Linked DNA regions of Homo sapiens. The protein of the gene in region 5 interacts with the protein of the main gene of each other region in a pairwise test. Each region holds a gene or a part of one and is shown on either strand. Other genes may lie near its edges.

Region 1 (4,556 bases), on a different chromosome or scaffold from region 5:
ACCTGAGAATGAACATTCCAATTCTTAACTTTCTAGTAGGATAATAAATCAGAGGTTAGAAGAAGATTATCATCTACAAGTCTATCAGAACTAAATATAGGCATTTATGGCTATATCAGAGGAAGACATTTCACTCTAAAGGAGTATTAGGCCAGGTACAGTGGCTCACGCCTGTAAACCCAGCACTTTAGGAGGCTAAGGTGGGCAGATCATTTGAGCTCAGGAGTTTGAGACCAGCCTGGGCAATATGGTGAAAACCCATCTCTACCAAAAATACAAAAAAATTAGCCAGGCGTGGTGGCACACGCCTGTAATCCCAGCTACTCAGGAGGCTGAGGTAGGAGGGTCTCTTGAGCCCAGAAGACGGAGGTTGTAGTGAGCTGAGATTGCACTCCTTCACCTCAGCCTGGGTGATGGAGCGAGACTCCATCTCAAAAAAAAAAAAAGTATTAGATGATAGGTGAGTTATGATAGGAGAGTAATTATGAAGAGGACACTAAAGGATACTCTAAGACTGAGAGAAAAACTGTAACACAGGATAAACTTCACAGGGAGTTCAAATGTCATAGAAGAAGTTTTGATTTCCTTTTCTTTTTCTTTTCTTTTTTTTTTTTTTTTTTTGAGATGGAGTTTTGTGCTTGTTGCCCAGGCTGGAGTGCAGTGGCGCGATCTCTGCTCACTCAACCACCGCCTTCTGGTTTCAAGTGATTCTCCTGACTCAGCCTCCCAAGTAGCTGGGATTACAGGCATCCGCAACCACATCCAGCTAATTTTTGTATTTTTTAGTAGAGACGGGGTTTCACCATGTTGTCCAGGCTGGTCTCAAACTCCTGACTTTGTGATCCACCCACCTTGGCCTCCCAAAGTGCTGGGATTAGAGGCGTGAGCCACTGCGCCCGGGAGAAGTTGTGATTTCAACCCACATCATGGCAAACGGAATTGTCCTGGCCAGAGCTGGTCCCCAGTGGCTGTAAAAGCAAGAAAAACATATGGAAACACAGGTGAACCAAGGTTGGCTGGCAGGTGAGCTGAAGAAGTTGGCAGCATTGCTGCGGGCATAAGACGTATTAGGAGAACCAACGGAAAGTGGTCACCAGGCCTCATGAGAGACTCTGAGCCACAATCACCCAGACGAACTGTTCTCAGGTTCTTGACCCTCAGAAACGATTCAAGAGAATAAATATTTGTTGTTTTAAGCTGTCAAGTTTTGAAATAATTTGTTATGCCACAATAGATGACTAGTTCATTGTCCCAGACTAAAAATAAACTTTCCACCCAGCTTTCTCTGCTAGCTGCTATTCTCTCTTTCTCCCCTTTCCCTCTCCAGACTCCATCAAAGGGTGGCATTTCCACCATCACTCTTCAGGCTATGGAATCTGTATGCGAAGACTTTCCAAGGGGTACATGGTATAGATAGCTTCAGGAGGATCAGCTCCCAGATGCTCAACTTTATATTTAATCTTTCCCAGAGCTGCTCTGCCTGGGAAGGAACTAGCATTTGAGGCTTCATGTAGATTCTTTTTTCACAATAGTCCTTTTTCTCTTTATTACAAAAGTAAAACTATACCTCTCACTTATCCTGAATATTTCATTGCACTGTAAGATTTCATTGCTTGGTAATTAAAAAAAAAAAAAAAAAAAAACACCTCCAGGGGACTAAATGGAAGGACAATTTGAAGTATTGCTATCAATGGTGGAGGGTGAATGACATTAATGAATGCATAAGAAAAAATTTGTTTTCAAGCTAAGTGGTTTCCAGTTCTTTGCTTTCAATAAAGTTGAAGGAGGATCTAATCAAATTGTCAGCTAATATATGATTAAAAATAATTTTTCATGATAGATCACTATGTACTTTTTGAAACACATTTCAGAAAGAGTTCAAAAATGTGAGTGACATTGCTATAATAAAACACTTTCATTTCCATCAATGTTTGATTACGTAGCTAAGCAAGGTTGCTCTGTTCTTACATCAACAAAATGAAAAGCGGAAAGACAATTGACCCTAATTCCTGTTGCAGTCTAAAATATGTAATTTTCATCAATGGATACACAAATAAACTTTTTTTAAAAAAGCTCCATCTACCTCATTAAGAGATGCATTTCCATTTTATTTTTCATTTAACAATTATTGGCCAGGCGTGGTGGCTCACGCCTGTAATCCCAACACTTTGGGAGGCCGAGGCGGGCAGATCATGAGGTCAGGAGATCGAAACCGTCCTGGCTAACACGGTGAAACCCCATCTCTACTAAAAATACAAAAAATTAGCCGGGCGTGGTGGCGGGCGCCTGTAGTCCCAGCTACTTGGGAGGCTGAGGCAGGAGAATGGCGTGAACCTGGGAGGCGGAGGTTGCAGTGAGCCAAGATCACGCCACTGCACTCCAGCCTGGGCGACAGAGCGAGACTCCATCTCAAAAATAACAATAATAATTATTATTATTTACCAAAATTTGTAATATGTTTATGTTATTTTGCTTACATGTGATTAAAAGTTGTATTGGTAACTTCATCCAAAAGAAAAAAAGAGTTTAATATTCAGAGATGTATGGTCCCAGGAGAACAAGAGAAAATCTTTCATCTCAAGTTATACATCTGTATTTTTGTAGAGAAGTATCATAGATGACCAACAAAAGACTTTCCAAGCACAGAAAAATATTACAGGTCAGGTACAGTGGCTGACACCCGTTATCCAAGCACTTTGGGAGGCAAAGGTGGGAGGACCACTTGAGCTTAGGAGTTCGAGACCAGCCTGGGCAACAAAAAGAAACCTCACCTCTATTTAAAAATCAAAAAACAAAACTAGCCCAGCGTGGTGGTGTGTGCCTGCAGTCCCAGCTACTCGGGATGCTAAGGTGGGAGGATCACTTTAGCTTGGAAGATTGAGGCTGCAGTGAGCTATTATCTTGCCACTGCACTCCAGCCTGGGTGACAGAGCAAGACCCTGTCAGAAGATAGAAAGGAAGAAAGAACGAAAGGAAGAAAATTCATGTTTTAAGTGCACAATTCAATGATTTTTAGTAAATTCCCCAAATTGTGCAGCCATCATCACAATCCAGTTCCTAATGCCTACCCCCATTAAAAAATTGTGGTAAATCTAATGTCTTTTTTTAAAAAAACTAATATTATTAAACTATTTTAACATGACATATATATATAATGTTTTGAGAAAAATAAGCAAAATATTTTAAGATATGGTTTAGCACTGTTTTTTCCTTATCCATCACTTTTATGATCCAGTTTTCCTTAACTTCCATTTATGTGATCAAAGTTAGCAGCCAGCTGTTTGTCTTCCCTATTTGTTCCACAGTTGTACACAGAAAACAGAAGTCAACAAGTTCGTCGGCTTCCCCTATCAGCTCTGTTTAACTTTCTGCAGTGATAGACTGTCACTTCTGCTGATAGACTGTCCTTTTAATAGCCACTTCCCAAACTATATTTTTAAAAAGGCATTAAGTTTTCTTTCCACTATCTCCACTGTTTTGTTTTTTTTTTTTTTTTTGAGACAGGGTCTTGCTCTGTTGCCCAGGTTGGAGCACAGTGGTGAAATCTCAGCTCACTGCAGCCTTGACCTTCTGGGCTCAAACAATCCTCCCACCTCAGCCTCCTGAGCAGATGGGATCACAGGCATGCACCACCACGCCTGGCTAATTTTTGTAATTTTTGTAGAGACACGGTCTCACTATGTTGCCCAGGCTGGTCTCAAACTCCTGCTTAAGCAATCCTCCCGCCTTGGTCTCCCAAAATGTTGGGATTACAGGTGTGAGCCAATGCGCCTGGCCTATCTCCACTTTTGATTGCCCTTTTAATATAACATTTTCTCATGGCCTAATTTGGAAATTCATGGACCCTGTCTGGTGCTCTCCTGACTGCTCCATGCCATTCAATCCTATTGACCCTTCTGTGTCCCCCGGCTCAGCTGGGATTTCCCCTAGGCCACTGACTGCTGAAATCTCTGCCAAGTTCCTCCCCTTGGCTGCTCTTTATATGCAGGCATCCCCTTAACCTCCATTCTAGGCCCTCTTCCCACTCTCCACTTGCTCTAGGTGATCTCATCCAGTCTCACAGCTTCTATGTCCCCGTCTTTTCTGAGGGCTCCAAATCCATGTCTCTGGCTCTAACCTGTGCCCCATGCAGAGGCAGAGGCTCAGAGGTGCAGCTGCTGTCTTGAGCAGCCCCCTCCAGCAGCCCCCTCAAACTCAGCACTGCCAGATGGAGCTCATTGCCTCTCTCTTTCCCCAACTCACCATGTGGTGTGACGTCACCTCCACGGCAGCCCCTGCATGCTGCCTGTTAGTGGGGTGTCCTCCCACCAGCCCTGCCAGAACTCCTCCTCTCAATAAGGTTTCTCAAACTTTCCTGCACACACGTCGCCTTGGGGTTCTGGTTAAACGTAGAGTCAGAAAGTCTAGAGTGAGGTCTGGAAAACTGCATTTCTAAATCTCTAAATGGTGCCTATTCTGCTGGTCTACCTTGTAAGGTAGAAGATGCCTGGATGCCCAGCTGGCCCGTGAGAGGTTGGGACAGTCTTCCAGAAAACCCACCTTCTTCAGCCTCTCTA
Region 2 (4,556 bases), on a different chromosome or scaffold from region 5:
GCCTGGGGGACAAGAACAAAACTCTGTCTCAAAAAAAAAAAAAAAAAAAAAAGATGCTGAAAGCATGAGGATAAGTCTGGTCTCTGTTACTCCATCATGACTAGCAGCAGAAGTCTGCCATTCTTCACAGTTCCAGGCCCCATGTCACTAACTATCCTCAAGGGATGTGGTTTGCAATGCAAAAATTGCTTCAGGCTGGGGGAACTGTAAGTGCAAAGGTCCTGAAGCAGGAGAAGGTTTGGCATAGAATATGCTTGAGGAACAGCAATGGGGTGATAGGTCTGGGGTCGAATAAGGCAAAGAGACAGGAGAGAGTGCTTGCTAGTAGAGTTGTTTGCTACGGCTGTGCAACAATTTACCACACACTTGGTGTCTTTAAGCAACACAAATTTATTATCACACGGTTCTGGAGATTTACAAGTTCAAATTGGGTCTCACTGGGCTAAAATCAAGATGTCAGGCAGGTCTACATTCCTTCTGGAGGCTCTAGGGGAAAATCCCCTTTCTTGCCTTTCCAGCTTCTACTGGCAGCCCATGTTCCTTGGCTTGTGATCCCAGTCTATATTCAACGCCAAAAATGGCCAGTCAAGTCCTCCTCACATTGCATCATGGCTAACACATTCTACCTCCCTCTTTCACTTCTAAAGACTCTTGTGTGGCAGGTGCGGTGACTCACACCTATAATCCCAGCATTTTGGGAGGCCAAGGCAGGTGGATCACTTGAGGTCAGGAGTTCAAGACCAGCCTGTTCAACATGGCAAAACCCTGTCTCTCCCCAAAAATACAAAAATTAACTGATCGTGGTGGCAGGCACCTGTAATCCCAGCTACTTGGGAGCTGAGGCACGAGAATCACTTGAACCCAGGAGGCGGAGGCTGCAGTCACCCTAGATCACACCACTGCACTCCAACCTGGGCAACAGAGTGAGACTCTGTCCCAAAAAGAAAAAAAAAAAAGACCCTTGTGATTACATTAGTACCACCCAATTAATCCAGGAGAATTTTCCCACCCTCAGAGTCAGCTGATTAGCAACCTTAATTCCCCCTTGCCACATAACATAACATAGTCCCAGCTTCTGGGGATTAGGACAAAGACATCTTTGAAGACTATTATTCTGCCTACCACAGCTGGGGACCAGATATGTAGATAATTTTTTTCTCTGATATGGGAAGCAACTAGAGTGTGTTGAGCAGAGGACTGCTGTGATCTGGGTTTTGTTATAAAAGGTTCAAACCAGTCCAGGCATGGTGGCTTACGCCAGTAATCCCAGCACTTTGGGAAGTGGGAGGATTGCTTGAGTACAGGCATTCGAGACCAGCCTGGGCAACACAGTGACACCCTGTCTCTACAAAAAAAATGAATTTTAAAAATTAGCCAGATGTGGCCAGGTACGGTGGCTCATGCTGTAATCCAAGCACTTTAGGAGGCCAAGGAGGGCAGATCACTTGAGGTCAGGAATTCGAGACCAGCCTGGCCAACATGGCGAAACATCGTCTCTACTAAAAATACAAAAATTAGCCGGGCATGGTGGCAGGTGCCTGTAATCCCAGCTACTCGGGAGGCCTCAGCAGGAGAATCATGTGAACCCAGAAAGGCGGAGGTTGCAATTTCTTTGCAACTTGAATTTCTCTGATTCCTAGTTAATTATCTGTTTGGGATTCCTCAATCTGTGAATTATGTTTTTATATCCTTTGCCCATTTTTCTATTGGGTTTTCTTTTTCCTTGCTAATTTCTAGGTGTTCTCTTTTTATTCCAGCCATTAAATACCATCAGCTTTGGACACAGAAAATATCTCCTTCCAGTCTCTTATCTATCTTTTTGTTTATATTTTTTTCATTGAATAGAAATTCTCAATTATGAGTAATCAAACTCACTGTTTTCCTCCCTTATTGTTTAAGCTTTTTAGTCTTGTTCAAGAAATCTTTCTTCACTCCAAGGTAACAGATATTTTCTTCTATTGCATTTACAGTTCTGCCATTCACATTTAGGTCTTTAATGCATTTGCACTCCACTTTTTTTTCTTTTTGAGACGGAGTCTTGCTCTGTCGCCCAGGCTGGAGTGCAATGGTATGATCTCAGCTCACTGCAACCTCCACCCCCTGGGTTCAAGCGATTCTCCTGCCTCAGCCTCCTGAGTAGCTGGAATTACAGGCACCCGCCACCACACCTGGCTAATTTTTGTATTTTTAGTAGAGACAGAGTTTCACCATGTTGATCAGGCTGGTCTCGAACTCCTGACCTCGTGATCCGCCCACCTCAGCCTCCCAAAGGGCTAGGATTACAGGCGTGAGCCACCGCGCCCAGCCTACTTCTGTGTTTAAGATCCTGCTTATGTCCACATAGTTAGCCAATGTTCACGATACCATCATACTAAACTTAGTCTGTTCTATCTCCTTTGTCTTATAGTGCCACCTGTGATATATGTGAAGTTCCTGAAATACCTAAGTCCAAGTTACAGCTCTGTCATATTCTACTGATTATTTGTTCCTGTACCTGTACAAGGTTATTTTTATTACTTTCACTTTGTGGCATATCTTTTTGTTTTTTTTAATTTTTTTCTGATAGGGATGAGGTCTCCCTATGTTGCCCAGGCTGGTCTCAAACTGCTGGACTCAAGAGATCTTTCCACCTTGGCCTCCCAAAGTGCTGGAATTACAGGCGTGAGCCATTGTGCCCAGCCGCGTAGCCTATCTTAATATCTAGTAAAGAAAGCCACTTTGTTCTTTTTCTCCAGATTGATTTATCTCTTTATGTACCTTTATTCTTACATATATATTCCAGATTTCTTCTTGAATGGCAACCTAAATGCCAGTCCAAAGAGGCCCCCAATAGACTTGTTCACCCTTCATGTCCTCAACTCTGGGGAAGTTAAGGTAAGACTCACAGGGCCAAGTCTACCCTATTATACTTGGTTCCTCCTCAGTCCTTTTATTAGATTGAAGTTTAATGTGCAAATTGATAATTATATGTTACCATTCTTTTACGTTTGTTGATTTCAAATGCCATGTTTTAGAGTTTTGTGTTTTTTAAAACGTTTTTTCAATTTTGTATTTTGAAAAAGTTTTAAACCTACAGAAATGTAATAATAATAATATGTAGAACAACTTTTTAAGCTTTACCTCCTAGATTTAACAGTTGTTAGCATTTTGCATATTTTACTGTCTTTCTGTATCTATGTATCTATCTATCTATTGCTAAACAATTTGAGGGCAAGTTGCAGATACAATTCTTCACCCCTAACTATTTCAGTATGTATTTCCTAAGAACAAGGACATTGACTTATATAACCACAATACAATTATCATATTCATGGCATTTATCACATTGATCCAATATTATTATCTAATATTGTCCCATATCCAAATGTTTCAGTTATCTAAGTAATGATCTTTGTAGTACATTCCATCCCCTTCCCAATTCAAGAGCATTGGTTGCATCTGAAATAATGTATCTTTAGCCTCCTTTAATCTGAAACAGTTCCTCAGCCTCTCTGTGTCTTTCATAACATTGACATTTTTAGGTAGAAGCTATTTGTTTCATAGAAGATACTTCTGTTTGGGTTTATCTGATTGTTTCCTCATGTTTAGATTCAAGTTATGCATTTGACAGGAGTATTTCCTTTCTAAGAAAAAGAGAAACCAAATAGAATAAACTCAATTTTATTCATTTGAAGGCAGTATTAGATATTCCTTTGATGAGGAAGAAAAATTCATCTTCAAGTTCCAAATCTAAAAATCAAATATACCCATATTTCAGAATTTCATCAGAGATATTAAAAAATTTAGCTAAGTTGTATTTGAGTCCCAGAAAGCCAAATATATACTATTTACCTAATTGTTATATTAATATTTGAGTAAGTACTATATTTAGGCTACTACAGTAGACCCAGGACTCTGTTTTGTTATAAACACTGATATTCAGTCACAAATATGGATAAACAGGGTTTCAAGATGATTCTTTAGAAATGTTCAGTCAGTAATTACAGCTTGATGAGTATGAAATTGTAAACTATCAAAGATACCACAGTAGGTAAATATTAAAGACATAATACATTCTAAAAAGTGGGTGAGGCTGAGCGCAGTGGCTCATGCTTGTAATCCTAGCACTTTGGGAGCTGAGGTGGGTGGATCACCTGAGGTCAGGGGTTCAAGACCAGCCTGGTCAACATGGGGAAACCCCGTCTCTACTAAAAATACAAACGTTAGAGTTTCTGTTTGGGATGATTAAAAGTTCTGGAGATGGATGACCATGATGTTTGCACAAAAATGTAAATGTACTCAATGTCATTGAATTGTACACTTAAAAGTGTTTAAAATGGTAAATGTTATATATATTTTACCACAATAAATAAAATATAGACTGGAAAAAAAATAAATAAAAATAAAAATAAAAATACAAACATTAGCTGGGCCTGGTGGCGGGCACCTGTAATCCCAGCTACTCAGGAGGCTGAGGCAGGAAAATCACTTTAACCTGCCGGGTGGAGGTCCAGTGAGCCGAGATCGCACCACTTCACTCCAGCCTGGGTGAAAGGGTGAAACTCCATCTCAAAAAA
Region 3 (4,556 bases), on a different chromosome or scaffold from region 5:
CTTACCCTGAGGCAGCTGCTGTGTCCAGCTCAAGTATCAGCCAGAGCAGCTGCTGAGTTAATCCACCAAATAGAGATCCTGTAGAAGCCCAAGGAAACTGGGGCCTTTGATGAGTTCAAATTCACCACAAGGCTGAATCCAAACCTTGCTTTTTCTTAGAGAATGCCCATGGGGGAGCTACAGCACTCTTCTGATCTAACAAAAAGTAGTGGTCCTGTCCATCACTCGTAGAGGAAGCTGATGTTTGGTTTTTGCCATGACCGGTTTTTTTTGCCTGTGTACTTGGGTGAAGAGAGAAGGTAAGGTATGTGATAAAGCAGAAATTGTTCAGCACCAGAAACCACAGGCAGTAAAATCGAGGGCATGTTTCACTGTGTACATGGATGTAAGGAAAGCACCAGGAAATAGAGCATTTGCTTCTAAAAGGTTTGCAGTTCAGCTGTTGTGGGCTGAATGTAGTTTACAGATCAGCAAGTGAGCCTGAGATGCTTCTGAGTTTTAAAGGCAGCATTACTCTGACACGGGACCACCTAGTAAAGAGAGATAAGACCACCACTGAATCAAAGAGAACTCTTACCACATCCTAAATACTCAAGGTAAGCCTAGTGATGAAATGTGAAATTCTAGCACTCTAACCTTGAACTGGACAAATATGAATCTGGTAAACTGGGTTCTGAAGTGGTGAAGGTGAATCAGACCTGCAAAATATTCTCAGAGGCCGGGAATTTGCTACTATAGTGAGGTCTCTATCAACCTGCCCATATCCCATTTCTGGGATCAAAGAGTAGTACTCCATCATGAACAGGTGTCCTTCTCTATGTGAAAGGCCCTTCCTCAAACACCAAGAACTATACAGTAAGGTTTTTTGCAATACTGGATGTCAACGCCCTCCCCACACCTGCTCCACCTGCCCCACCCTCCTCTCCCTAGGCAGGCACGTGGATGTCAGCATACATGACATGGGCTCAGTGGATCACAGCCTTGAAGCATGACACTCCCTCTGCAGCCTCAGAGAAGCAATACAAGACATATATGTAGTGACAAAGCCCTAAACCCGAATTCTCAGAATGTAAACAGAACCCTTCAGACAATTATTCAGATCCACAATTAGGTCCTGGTTCCAATAAAGCATGGAGTTTTCTCTCTCACCATTCACCCCTCTGAGTCCATGGCCAATACATCCTCCCACTCCTTTTTACCACAGATAATGTCTGAAGGAGTTGGGCAGCTGAGCAGACTGTAAGGACACTCAGGACACTCTAGGGTGCACAGGTTTCCAGCTGACTATTGGACATTGTGGGCAGGTCCTGCTCACACACAGTTCCAGACACGGCAGAGACCAATGGAGACGCCACCGCCATTGCTGAGCAGATGGCTAATGAGGCAGAAAGTCTATGAAGGGAGCTTCCAGAAGAGTCAGTGTCAACCCAGGGAAAAGTCAGTGAGCCAGAAATAGCCGAGGCTTTTCAGCACCATTGACCCTGAACTGCCTTTGAGCTACAGGAACAAGGAGTTGGGTCTCAGGCCCAGCAGGGTCATTTACACAAAAGTACATGGAAGTTGGAATCTTTAAATATTATTAATTAAACTGAGAACTTTCAAAAGGGTATTAAAGGATTATGATGTCAGTCCTCAAGCAAACCTCATAACAGCAATCAAGCAAAGGCTTGGCTATGAGAACGGTGACTCGGAAATAATATAAATGGACTGCTTGATGACTTTATGGCTTAGTTCTTGGTTCTAATTCCTGATAGCTGGTAAGTGCACATTGATCCTCTGGCTGTTAATTCATTCAGGTCTCACGTGGCTGCAATCCCCCAGATATTTCTTCAGTCAGGGCATCTTTCTCTCAGGGACCTCCTCTCCCAGGAGAAACTCTGTAGAGTCTGAGGGTTCAAAGAGAACCCACCTGCTCACCTGCATAGGAACTGCCTAGAACATCATCCCACGAGGAGTCACTTGGCCACCTCCTGGGCATCTCTGGTGTAAGCAGATGAAATGCTTGTACTTAATCTATGGAAACCTGCATTTTCCTGCAGGAGTCCTTTGCCGCTCCTTTCTCTACGAGCAGTAAGTCCTCACCGCATTATGGACACTTGAAACTGGCCTCCCCTAATGACCATTCTGGAGGGTTTGCTCCTCCTGGATTACTGAATAATTGCCCATGGAGTTACTGTTCTCAGTCAAGGTTCCCCTCCATGCAGGAATAGATAATGGAGCAATTCTCCTCAGAAAGAGGTCTTGAGGCGATTGCATTGTGTGAGCTTGAGGCCTCCAGTATAATCTGAGAACAATGTTCTTTTGGGAGGACTGAGCCTCAAGATTTGGGGAGAAATTAATCTCTGGGCCTATAGAAGAGGAACATTATGGAAGAAACTATGTGAGATGTTAGTCAAGGGAAAAGAAAATATTTCCTACCCATTAAAGTAAAAATCAAGCACTGAATCTGACTCCAGATGTAGTGAAGAATAAGAAAAGCCAAAAGCGCTAGGCAGATTACTAACTCCTGTGAGAAAACAAGAAGAAAGCTTCACTGATATTATCACAAATAATTATTTTCAACATTATTTCAATGGACTTTTCATTTTGGCTTGAGCCCTACTACGTGCTCTTCATGGGGTAGTGCACTACTGTTTTCAGAAAACAGCCCCTCCGCACACAGCTTCTACTACCATGTATAAGAATTGCCACACATTTTCTAGAAATAATCAGTCTACTGCATCTTTTACCTAAAAACCACCTCATAAGATTTCTTCCCACCAAACATTTATTTTTGTCATTTTATCTGTGAAAATAAACATCCAACCCCAAAGCATGTTACTTTTAATTTTCCAAAATCATTTCCTTTTACTACCTCATGGAATTGAAGTCTCTTGGGCAGATACAATCAAAATAATAAGTCATTGTCTGATTTTTGAGAACATGTTGTTTGTGGTTCATAATCAATCACCTGATGACCCAGGAGCATGGAACTGGAGAGTGCTTTCTGGCAGCTTCTTGCCTGGGCAACACTCACACCCTACACATCATTTAAGAATGCTCATGAGTATGGAGTCACCATGAACATTCTTCCTTGTGAAGAAATTGTAAAAGATTTCTTCTGTGGACTCTTCAAGACATGCAAACATCTAACCAAGTGTTAGGGGGAAGACATGGACTTCAAACTCATCATATAAAGAAAGAGTCTCTTGAAAAAAATCTCTGTGGAGGAGCACCTGTGCTTTTCCACTCCCAGGAGTACATGCTTAGGAAGCACAGGTTTAATCAAGCCAAGACTGTCTCTGTCTAGCTGTAGCCAGCACACTCCAAGAATCCATGAATCAGAGGTTATTCTCCAGAACAGACTTAAAACTCAAGTGTGCTCCTTGGGGGTTGCTGGGAATGACACAAAAGCAGGGGATTAGTCTTTAGAAGCCCAAGGAGGACACAGGGAAGGCTGAGCAAGGGCAAGTGGCCGTTGGTAAGGAGGACTGGGGACACAGCCAGTCACTGCAGATGAAGCAGCGCTCAGTAGCATGCCTAAGGGCCAGGCTCACTTGCACCCCTCCCCTGGGAAGCCAGGTGTGAGGTCACCATGCACCAGGAGAGTGAACTCAAATTTGTTTTGTTTTATGTTTTCTTTTATATAGAGCTCAAAACAAGCCAACATTGGGGGATGAATTGTTTCTGTACTTTTCCCCTGGCTGAGGTTTCTCTCTGCCCCTTTGAAAACCCTTTTTCTTCTTGCTGTGGCCTGTTCCAGTGGGACCCTAGGGGGCGCGGGAAAGCATAGACACAAGTGCATCATCACTAACCTGAGAAGTAGCTGCAGGTGCACTAGTTTCCTTACCACTCACAGCTGCCCTCTCACTCGCTGCGGCTGCTGCCACTTCTGCCTTCCGTACATTCGAATCCTCAGAACCTGGAGGCCCTATTTGCCCCAGACCTTCGCTCCCTGGGGTGCAAGGTGGGTTGGTGGTGGCTTTCCGGGTTTGGCCTTTATACCAACTAGGGTAAAACAAGGGATCCGCAGTTTCTGCTGCTGCAGGGACTGGAGTTTCAGACTCTGTGGTCTGCTCAGAGCCAGTGGGTACAACCTCCCCCTTAATCAGGACAGATAAATTCAAAAGTAAAGAAAAAAAAAAAGAAGAAGAAGAAGAAAAAGCAGTTGATTTTAGTTCCCTTTGGGTTTGAACACTGTGCGCTCCCTGCATGCAGTGCCTTGGTGGCCGTTTTAGTTCATCCCACCCTCCAGAAGCGCTAAGGGCAGAATGGTGACTACAGTGCCCCTCTGTCCAGCATCTGGATGGGTGCCCTCTTCTTTTCTGAGCTTGTCTTTCACTCACTGGGAGCCCAGGCAGGCAGAGAGCAGAAACCTCAGTGAATGTTGGTTATAAAATATCAGATATGGGAAAAGGGTCAAACTATTGACTAGAATAATTTGTTGGCTTTATACGTGAGTCCCAAAAACCTCATTATAAAAAACAAAAATTAATCTTATTGATCAAATCCAACCCTCACTTAGTTACTATACCTCTTTCAATTTTAATACAACTGAAATGCTCAGAATTTAAAAA
Region 4 (4,556 bases), about 160 Mb from region 5:
TATTTCAACATCCACACAGTTGCCATTTCACATGATTGCTCTAGCTATCTTTGTTTGCTCTCTGGCTATCTATTCGTACTTCTTATGTCAAATGAGTTAACCTAAAAAACTAAAAATAATTTCAGCACTCGTCTGTAATCCCAGTATTTTGGGAGGCTGAGGGTTGGTGGAGCACTTGAACTGAGGAGTTCCAAACCAGCCTAGGCAACACGGCAAAACCCTGTCTCTACACGAAATACAAACATCAGCTGGGCATGGTGGCACAGGACTACAGTCTCAGCTACTTTGGAGGCTGAGGAGGGAGGATGGCTAGAGGCTGGGAAGTTGACGCTGAAGTGAGCCGAGATAGCACCACTGCACTCTAGCCTAGGTGACACGGCAAGACCGTATCTCCAAAAAAAAAAAAAAAAAAAAAAAAAAAGCCGGGCGCAGTGGCTCATGCCTGTAATCCCAGCACTTTGGGAGGACAAGGTGGGCGGATCACAAGGTCAGGAGTTTGAGACCAGTCTGGCCAACATGGTGAAACCCCATCTCTACTAAAAATACAAAATTTAGCCGGGCATGGTGGCGTGCGCCTGTAGTCCCAGCTACTCAGGAGGCTGAGGCAGGAGAATCACATGAACCCAGGAGGCAGGGGTTGCAGTGAGCTGAGATCGCACCCCTGCACTCCTGCCTGGGCAACAAAGCAAGGCTCCATCTCAAAAAGCAAAACACGGCCGGGCACGGTGGCTCACGCCTGTAATCCCAGCACTTCGGGAGGCCAAGGCGGGTGGATCACGAGGTCAGGAGATCGAGACCATCCTGGCTAACATGGTGAAACCCCGTCTCTACTAAAAATACAAAACAAAAAAAATTAGCCGGGTGTGGTGGCGGGTGCCTGTAGTCCCAGCTACTCAGGAGGCTGAGGCAGGAGAATGGCATGAACCCAGGAGGCAGAGCCTGCAGTGAGCCAAGATCACGCCACTGCACTCTAGCCTGGGCAACAGAGTGAGACTCCATCTCAAAAAAAAACAAAAACAAAAAAACTAAGAAAAATTTCACTTACGAAAAAATTATGTTTAAAAAATAGAAATTCATCTGTTTCACCTAATAAACCAACCATCACTGTCTTCATATCAATTTTAAGTTCAAATAAACAATGCAAAAAATGGAACAGAATATTAGCATAACTTTTGAACATACAAAACATTATAAAGTTACAAACAAAAGAAAAATAATCTATATTGTAAATTAGTCACTTGAAAAACAGGACCTATGACTTCATCAAGCATTTCTCTCATCCTCTAGCCATCTACCAGTACTGGTAGCCACCACCACTAAACCACAAGAGGGCATAGGCAAATTATGTCAAACCTCCCCCTTCTGAATAGCTGATGAATCCTAAACTAAATTCTCCATCAGCCCTCAGGTCTTGCATGCCTCCCTCCCATCCCTCACTATGCCCACTGTCCCAGTGACCAGACGGAGAAAAATTCTCTTGCAGGGAAAGGCACCTGGCAACTGGGAGCAATATGCAAAGTAGCAAGAGTAATTACTCTCTTGGAGTAATGTGGGGAATAAGGGCTTGGAAACAGGTAGGAGACAATGCTGGTCAAGTGTTGTTCCCTGAAGATAGCTACTGATGAAACAGACGTTCACACTGTGAACTGAGGAAATCCACGTCAGCTACTGAAAACAAGCAACACACAGTCTTTCATTCATAAATATTGATACAGAATCACGCATCACCAAACATTGAGAAAACTAATATAGAAAAAAGGTCAAGATAAATAGAAAACTGACCATGGATAAGAGATAATTCAACAGATGAAAGAAATCTTTTTTAAAAATGTAACAAATATTATCAGATTAATAAACATCTGTAAAATACCATCATGCTATATAAAGAAAAGCAAAAATTAAGGACATTAGAAAAATTTAAAGATAAATTCTGAAGCAAAGACTCAGTGGCTAAAGCAAATAATAAAACTGACCCTGAAAGGCCAGTTTCGTGATCTCTAAGATAAAGGTAAGAGAATATCCCAGAATTGAGAACAAAAGTCAACCTGTAGATATATATTCAGAAGGCCAAATGTGTGTCTAACAAAAGTTCCAGAACACAGAGAAGTCAAAGAAGGAAAAAATAAAGAAGAAAATTTCCCTAAATTAAAGAAATACAGAATCTTTAGGATGAAAGGAACTCTCTAGAAGTATCCTGGTAAAATTTCCAAACTTTAAGAAAATACCAAAGCTTCCACAGAGGGAGATAGAAAACAAAACACAGTTATCTACAAAGTAACACAGGTATATTACAATCAGGCTTCTCATCAGTAAAACTAAACACTAGGAGAAATGGAATAATTCAAAGTTTTGAAGGAAAAAAAACTGGAATCTAAATTCTATACACAGCCAAACCAATCAAGTATGAATATATTTTTGACTATTCCAGAATTCAGAATGTTTACAGCTCATGCACTATTTATAAAAAAAAAATTACTCAAGAATTAGTAATTACTCAATTACTAATATAGCGAATTGAACAGAAACCCAAGAAAGACAGTAACATGAGATATGAGCAACATGGCAGCTGAAATCTGATTCAGGAAATCACAAAGGAAGCTACAGAGAAAAAGAATTCACTAGATAGTGATATATCTCTCTGGGTGGCAAAGTCTTAATAATACAGAATATTTTCTGTGTCCAAACATATTTGGTTATAGAATAACATTTACATAATTGTAGTATTATCAATTTTCTTTCCTGGTTTTCCAACTTTTAAGTCTCAAGTTTAGACAAAGTACTTATACCTGGATTGTATTAGAGGACAAACTATGAATGTGATAACAATGAAAAATAATATCACAAAAATTGCAAAGTAGTACAGCAAGAGAGGTAGAACAAGAGTAACAACAAGAAAGTCCTCAGCTTTCACTGCAGGGATGAACTGATACTGACTGAAGTTGAACAAACATGAAATGGAAGCTTTTTATTATTTCCTTAAAGCAAAAAAAAGGCAAGCAGACGAACAAGAGGAACAATATTATGAAGACATGAGATGTGAATGAGGAAGGGTGTAGGTAGGAGGTACAATAAGGACACAGAATTCCTTATCTTTCATAGCAGGGAATCAATGAACTGATAAACAAGAAAACTTGAAATACATTAAAAGTTAAAATAGTACTTCCTAGAAGAATTTCCAACAGATACTTTTTAACAGCAGTTACCTCTAAGGAATGAAACTGAGGATGAGAAAGGAGGATACTTTCTTACTTTGTAGCTTTTTTTAATGAGTTTTGTTGATTTTTTTTTTTTAACCTTATTCAGACATTACTGCTACAATTTTTGAAGGGGGAATATGTAGATGACACATTGCTAAGTAAAAAAAGCAAGCTGTAGAGCGTATATATAACAATGATGGACTGGGGAGAAGAGAACTTAATTTTTTATTATACTTCCTTTTTAAACAGCAAATATAGTCTTGGTTGCACTGTCTTCTGACACCACACCTACTGACCGTGGATGAATGATGGATACCCAAAAGAGATTTCTTGTGTAAAACACTTAGCAGGAGAAAGCCAATCTGAAAGCAGTAATAAATGCTTATAGCGTTTTTTTTTCTTAAGTTCAATTCTCAAATCTGGTAAGGGGAAATGATCCCATTCTATATGCTCAGCCTCCCTCTCATTTCAAATTATTTGTGAGATCACCAGTAAATATTTTAGAAAATAAGTAAATAGCAAGAAAAAAAGGAGACCTTAGAAGCATTCTACTGAGGCCCACCCACCCCCAGTATTTTCAAAAGCACTACAATTGTTTAAAATACCTCCAATCCCAGGCGAATAGCGGCTTCTGTAAAGCTTCGTCTCTCCCTCTCAAAATTCTTTTTCTGCTCTTTAAAAAGGGACCATTCTTCTTTGAGACGTTCCTTTTCTTCCAACAAATAACAGTCTCGTAATAGTGAAGTGGTATCATCATCATATGCAGTAGCGAGCTGCTGCTATTAAAATTTAAAACATAGTAAGTTCCTGAGGGACCTTGCGACACTCCAACGAGTTGAAATGAAAGCAAGGGAAGGCCAGTCAAACTTCAGGGCAGGAATAGAAATTATTAAGAATCAAAAAGTCAAATGAGAATTCTCATTTCCCGAAACCTACTACCCCAACTAGCAAAGTATGGACTATTTAAGGAGTGGTACACAATGTATCTGTTAGCAGGGAACACAGACTAGAAATCTGTCAAATACCAGGGCCTTATGAAATAAAGGAATACAAATCTGGTAAGGTTCAGCACAATTCTGGCTTTTCATGGAGAACAGCTTTAAAAGGTAATTCATATTCACCTGTAAAAGCTGTTGCTGAGTTTTAATCATTTCTTTACACTGCTGAATTTCTAACTCGAGTTTTTCAGTTTCTTGTTCATGGTCTTGTCGTGAGATTACATCTTCATCATTAAAACCTTCCAGGTGTACCTTTGAAACTAAGACAAAATCAGTAAGTTGACATAGGTCTTATAGCCACCACTTAGTTTACAGTGTTTTGCACATATCTTTAAAACAAGGGCTCTCAGAACTTTTATCT
Region 5 (4,556 bases):
ATACAGTTTGGGTATTTTCTCCCTTCAAATTTCATGCTGAAATTTGATCCTCATGTTGGAGGTATGACCTGGTGTGAGGTGCTTGGGTCATGGGAGCAGATTCCACATAAGTGGCACTGTTGTGGTAATGAGTGACTTCTCGCTCTATTAGTTCCTGAAAGATCCGATTGTTAAAAAAAAAAAAAAAATGGTCGGGCATGGTGGCTCACGCCTGTAATCCCAGCACTTTGGGAGGCCAAGGTGGGCAGATCACTTGAGGTCAGGAATTCAAGACCAGCCTGGCCAACATGGTGAAATGCTGTCTCTACTAAAAATACAAAAATTAGCTGGGTGTGGTGGCATGTTCCTGTAATCCCAGCTACTTGGGAGACTGAGTCCGGAGAATCACTTGAACCCGGGAGGCGGAGGTTGCAGTGAGCCAAGACTGCACCACTGCACTCCAGTCTGGATACCAGAGAGAGACTCCATCTCAAACAAAACAAAACAAAACAAAAAAACCCCAAAAACTTTGGCACTTCCTTTCTCTCTCTCTTGCTCCTTCTCTCCCCATGTGACATGTCAGCTCCCCTTCCCCTTCTGCCATGACTGGAAGCTCTCTGAGGTCCTCATCAGAAGCAGATGCTGGCTTTATGCTTCTGATAAAGCCTGCAGAACCATTAGCCAAATAAAACTCTTCCTTATAAATTACTCAGCCTAGGTATTCCTTTATAGCAATGCAAGCAGACTAAAACAATACTGTTTTCAAGTGAACTATTTTGCAAACATTTAACATCCATGTTACATTGAAGTATATATTTTTGGTAAAAACTTTGAGAATAAATTGATGTTGTCTTAATTTATTTTGTTTGCTTGGTTTTTTTTTTTCCCCGAGATGGTGTTTTGCTCTTGTTTCCCTGGCTGGAGTGCAATGGCACAACCTCAGCTCATTGCAACCTCCGCCTCCCAGGTTCAAGCAATTCTCCTGCCTCAGCCTCCCAAACAGCAGGGATTACAGGCATGCACCATCACACTGGGCTAATTTTGTATTTTTAGTAGAGACGGGTTTTTGCCGTGTTGGTCAGGCTGGTCTCAAACTCCTGACCTCAGGTGATCCGCCCACCTCAGCATCCCAAAGTGCTGGGATTACAGGTGTGAGCCACCATGCCTGGCCTTGTTTGCTTTAAACATATGATTATATACTACAATTGACCCCAAGGGGGACTGCTTCCTCTTGTGAGGGCAAATTACCTTAGATTTCTTGAAGAATTTTTGTACTGATCTTCAATGCTCTGGTCTTCCCCTTTGTTTCCTAAAATGTAGACCCAGAAATATATTACAAATTATTTGAAATTATAGAAAAATTACTAGACTCTAGGTGCTATGTTGGGGATATGGTTTGTACCCACCAAAATGAATGCTGTAATTTGGTCATCAATATGGCAACATTGTTTGTGTTATGGGTACAGATTCCTTATTAATAGATTAATGTCCTTGCTTGGGAATGCATGTTTTCTCTTACTCTTGCAAGACTGAATTAGTTGCCAGAGGGCAGGTTGTTATAAAAGCAAGTTTAGCTCCCAAGAATTGCTCTTATTTTCTTGCTGTGATCCCTTTGCACATGCCCACTTGCTTCTGCTTCATGCCCTGAGCTGAAGTAGCATCAGGTCCTTACCAGATGCAACCTTGGACTTTCTAGCCACTAGAATCATAAACCAATATAAAACTATTTTTGTAAATTACCCAGGATCAGGTATTCTGTTATCACAATTAAAAAATAGACTAAGAAACAAGAGTCATTGCACACTGGGTCCATGCCTCATTCACTCATCAAAGTGTTCCCTTTGTACATTCCAAATCATGGAATGACATTGAAAACCATGAAACACTTACTTTCTGATTGACTAAGTGAAGAAATATTGTGATTCTTACCTATGGAAGCCAGATTCCTGAAGGTTTCCTGCATCACGTCTCTATAGAGATTCTTCTGGGAAGGATCCAACAAAGCCCACTCCTCCTGGGTGAAGTTCACAGCCACATCCTCAAAGGCAACCGAGTTCTAAAATATTCCACATTTTTGTAGAGGATGGATGAGACTGAAAGCACTGGAAATCTGTAGTCAATTTATAAGATGTTCATCTGATTCTGTGGCGAACATTTATTCTACTATTTGGTCACTAGAACTATGACTCTGTCTACACTTCCTTTCTCCCACATAGCAGTTCTTTTTTTTTTTTTTTTTTTTTTTTTGAGACGGAGTCTCACTCTGTTGCCAGGCTGGAGTGCAGTGGCACCGTCTCAGCTCACTGCAATCTTCGCCTCGCAGGCTCAAGTGATTCTCCTGCCTCTGCCTCTCAAGTAGCTGGGACTACAGGCACATGTCACCACGCCCAGCTAATTTTTGTATTTTTAGTAGAGACAGGATTTCACCATGTTGGCCAGGATGGCCTCGATCTCTTGACCTCGTGATCTGCCTGTCTTGGCCTCCCAAAGTGCTGGGATAACAGGCGTGAGCCACCGCGCTCAGCCAGCAGTTCTTATGCTAAAGTTGAACTGTTCAGCAAGGCAGCAGCAGAGAAGGAACACCCTTCTTGTTGGTGGGTCCAGGGAGTAATATTTGCTGTTATGATTTTTCTTTATAGCATATACCTGCAGTACATATCATATCAAAGTCTTACTATCTGGTGTGCATAAGAGAGTTAATATGAGCCGTCACAAGACTACTTACCCTTAGAAATACCTGCTACAAAGTTCAACCTTTGCTGGTATGAGGGAACTTACATTTTAAGAGGCATCCCAACAACCTAAGTGATAAAAGTAGCTCACTGTTGCTAAATAGTTTATCTAAACAATCTGGTATTTGCTGAACCCCTGTTTTCCTTCCAAAAGTCTATTATTTTGTTTTATTGTAGCAGTGGTGCCTAGGGGGATCAGCCTCAATAAACAAACAAAAACACACTCTGAGCACTGAGTATCTGATGAGCTTCCCTGGTAGATAATATTTCATATATGATGTCACAACTTTTTAATTGGGAAATTGAGCCCAATCCACGTGGTTACACAAAGAGAAAATGTGTAGAAGCTTATAAGTGCTTCACTCAAGCCCAAATTTAATCAAGAGGTAATTAACACTAATAATCAATATTCAATAATCCAAAAATAATTATTTTACAATTTCTACTGAAAAATGTCAAAGCAGAATAGAATAAGTGAAAAGGCATGCGTTCAAAGAAAAAAACTCAATGTCATCTAGATGTCACCTCTTACAAATGATATTTATGTAAAATTTCATAGATGCCTGAAACAGACTTTCTAGCAGTTCAGCAGAAACTACTTTTCAAAACCTACAGAAATAACAAACGCCTAACAACCGTCAAAGTCTTCTGAATAACAGTGTGATGGTTTGCCTAATACACATCAATGATTTTCAAATATAATATTCAGGGCAGTGTAGTATAAGCAGAGAGATAAAGAACTAGGCCAAGAGAAAGGCATATAGTCTTTAATTAGCTGGAATTGATATGGAAAGCTGACTAATAACAGAGGAGGCATTGTAGGATAGTGAAGGAAGTATCAAGCACTTTAAACATGGAACAAAGCTAACCGGTATTTAATTGGGAAAAAAATGAATTGCATTGACCTCTATTAGTTGGACAATAATCAATTTGTCATATATTCAAAAGTAAAAAGTATAAATAGACCACTTGCAGAAGTCACAGACAAGGTTTTTTTTGACATATGAATAGGAGAAAAGGAGCAAACAATAGAGACTGACAAATTCAAATATATTAAAATTAGGAGAATTAAAAGACAAAAAACAGTAAAATAAAAATCTGCAATACATGCAATATAAAAGAAATTAGTGTGCACAGTAAAAATGAATGAAAACATGATTAAAAAATGGGAAAAAAAAGCAAAAGATACATAACAAGAAAAAAGACCATTTATGGAAAGAGATCCATTTTCTTGGTAATAAAACAGCCAAATAATATGGCATATTACTATAATAATAATAGTAAATAATAGTCCACATTCTTTAGAAGAACAAAAATTAGAGAATCTCAAGTGGTGATTACCACACCAAATAAATACGCAGAAATGAAGGCCAAGGCAGTGGATATACTCCATTGCTATTTCCAGTAATTTGAACTTTACCACAATCTACAGTCCAGTAATTTTTCTCTAATGTCCAGAAAATTTATTGTGCATTATCAGAGTTTATATTCAGCATTCTTAAGGAAAAGAAATTCCAACCATGAATTTCCCATCCAGCCAAAAGAAGCTTCATAATCATTTTCAGACAAGCAACTACTAAGAGAATTTGTTCCCACTAGATCTGCCTTATAAGAGTTCCTAAAGGTAGTGCTAAATATGGAAAGATCATTAACAGCCACCACAAAAACACACGTAAGTACATAGACCAGTGACACTATAAAGCAAGCATACAAACAAGTCTGCATAATAACTAGCTAACGACACAATAACAAGATCAAATCTACACATATGAATAGTAACCTTGAATGTAAATGGGCTAAATGCCCCAATTAAAAGGCAAAATGACAAGCTGGATAGAGAAACAA

What was found.
Region 1: the proteins of ZNF124 (region 5) and FSD2 interact in binary tests that used the Homo sapiens proteins (3 or more experiments, as listed by UniProt).
Region 2: the proteins of ZNF124 (region 5) and TSGA10 interact in binary tests that used the Homo sapiens proteins (3 or more experiments, as listed by UniProt).
Region 3: the proteins of ZNF124 (region 5) and TRIM55 interact in a two-hybrid assay, tested with the Homo sapiens proteins (one large-scale study listed by BioGRID and IntAct).
Region 4: the proteins of ZNF124 (region 5) and SSX2IP interact in binary tests that used the Homo sapiens proteins (3 or more experiments, as listed by UniProt).

What each region holds. Positions count from the first base shown.
Region 1 is NC_000015.10:82,795,399-82,799,954, forward strand, and holds part of FSD2 (fibronectin type III and SPRY domain-containing protein 2), read right to left. Parts: intron 969-4,556; exon of another isoform or gene 852-968; intron 1-851.
Region 2 is NC_000002.12:99,144,620-99,149,175, forward strand, and holds part of TSGA10 (testis-specific gene 10 protein), read right to left. Parts: intron 3,730-4,556; exon of another isoform or gene 3,645-3,729; intron 2,875-3,644; exon of another isoform or gene 2,783-2,874; intron 2,504-2,782; exon of another isoform or gene 2,408-2,503; intron 1-2,407. UniProt on the Homo sapiens protein: Plays a role in spermatogenesis. When overexpressed, prevents nuclear localization of HIF1A.
Region 3 is NC_000008.11:66,153,573-66,158,128, reverse strand, and holds part of TRIM55 (tripartite motif-containing protein 55), read right to left. Parts: intron 4,083-4,556; coding exon 3,795-4,082; intron 2,507-3,794; coding exon of another isoform or gene 2,419-2,506; intron 1-2,418. UniProt on the Homo sapiens protein: E3 ubiquitin ligase that plays an important role in regulating cardiac development and contractility, muscle growth, metabolism, and fiber-type differentiation.
Region 4 is NC_000001.11:84,652,030-84,656,585, forward strand, and holds part of SSX2IP (afadin- and alpha-actinin-binding protein), read right to left. Parts: intron 4,456-4,556; coding exon 4,319-4,455; intron 3,977-4,318; coding exon 3,803-3,976; intron 3,560-3,802; coding exon of another isoform or gene 3,436-3,559; intron 1-3,435. UniProt on the Homo sapiens protein: Belongs to an adhesion system, which plays a role in the organization of homotypic, interneuronal and heterotypic cell-cell adherens junctions (AJs).
Region 5 is NC_000001.11:247,157,779-247,162,334, forward strand, and holds part of ZNF124 (zinc finger protein 124), read right to left. Parts: intron 2,036-4,556; coding exon 1,909-2,035; intron 1,289-1,908; coding exon 1,228-1,288; intron 1-1,227. UniProt on the Homo sapiens protein: May be involved in transcriptional regulation.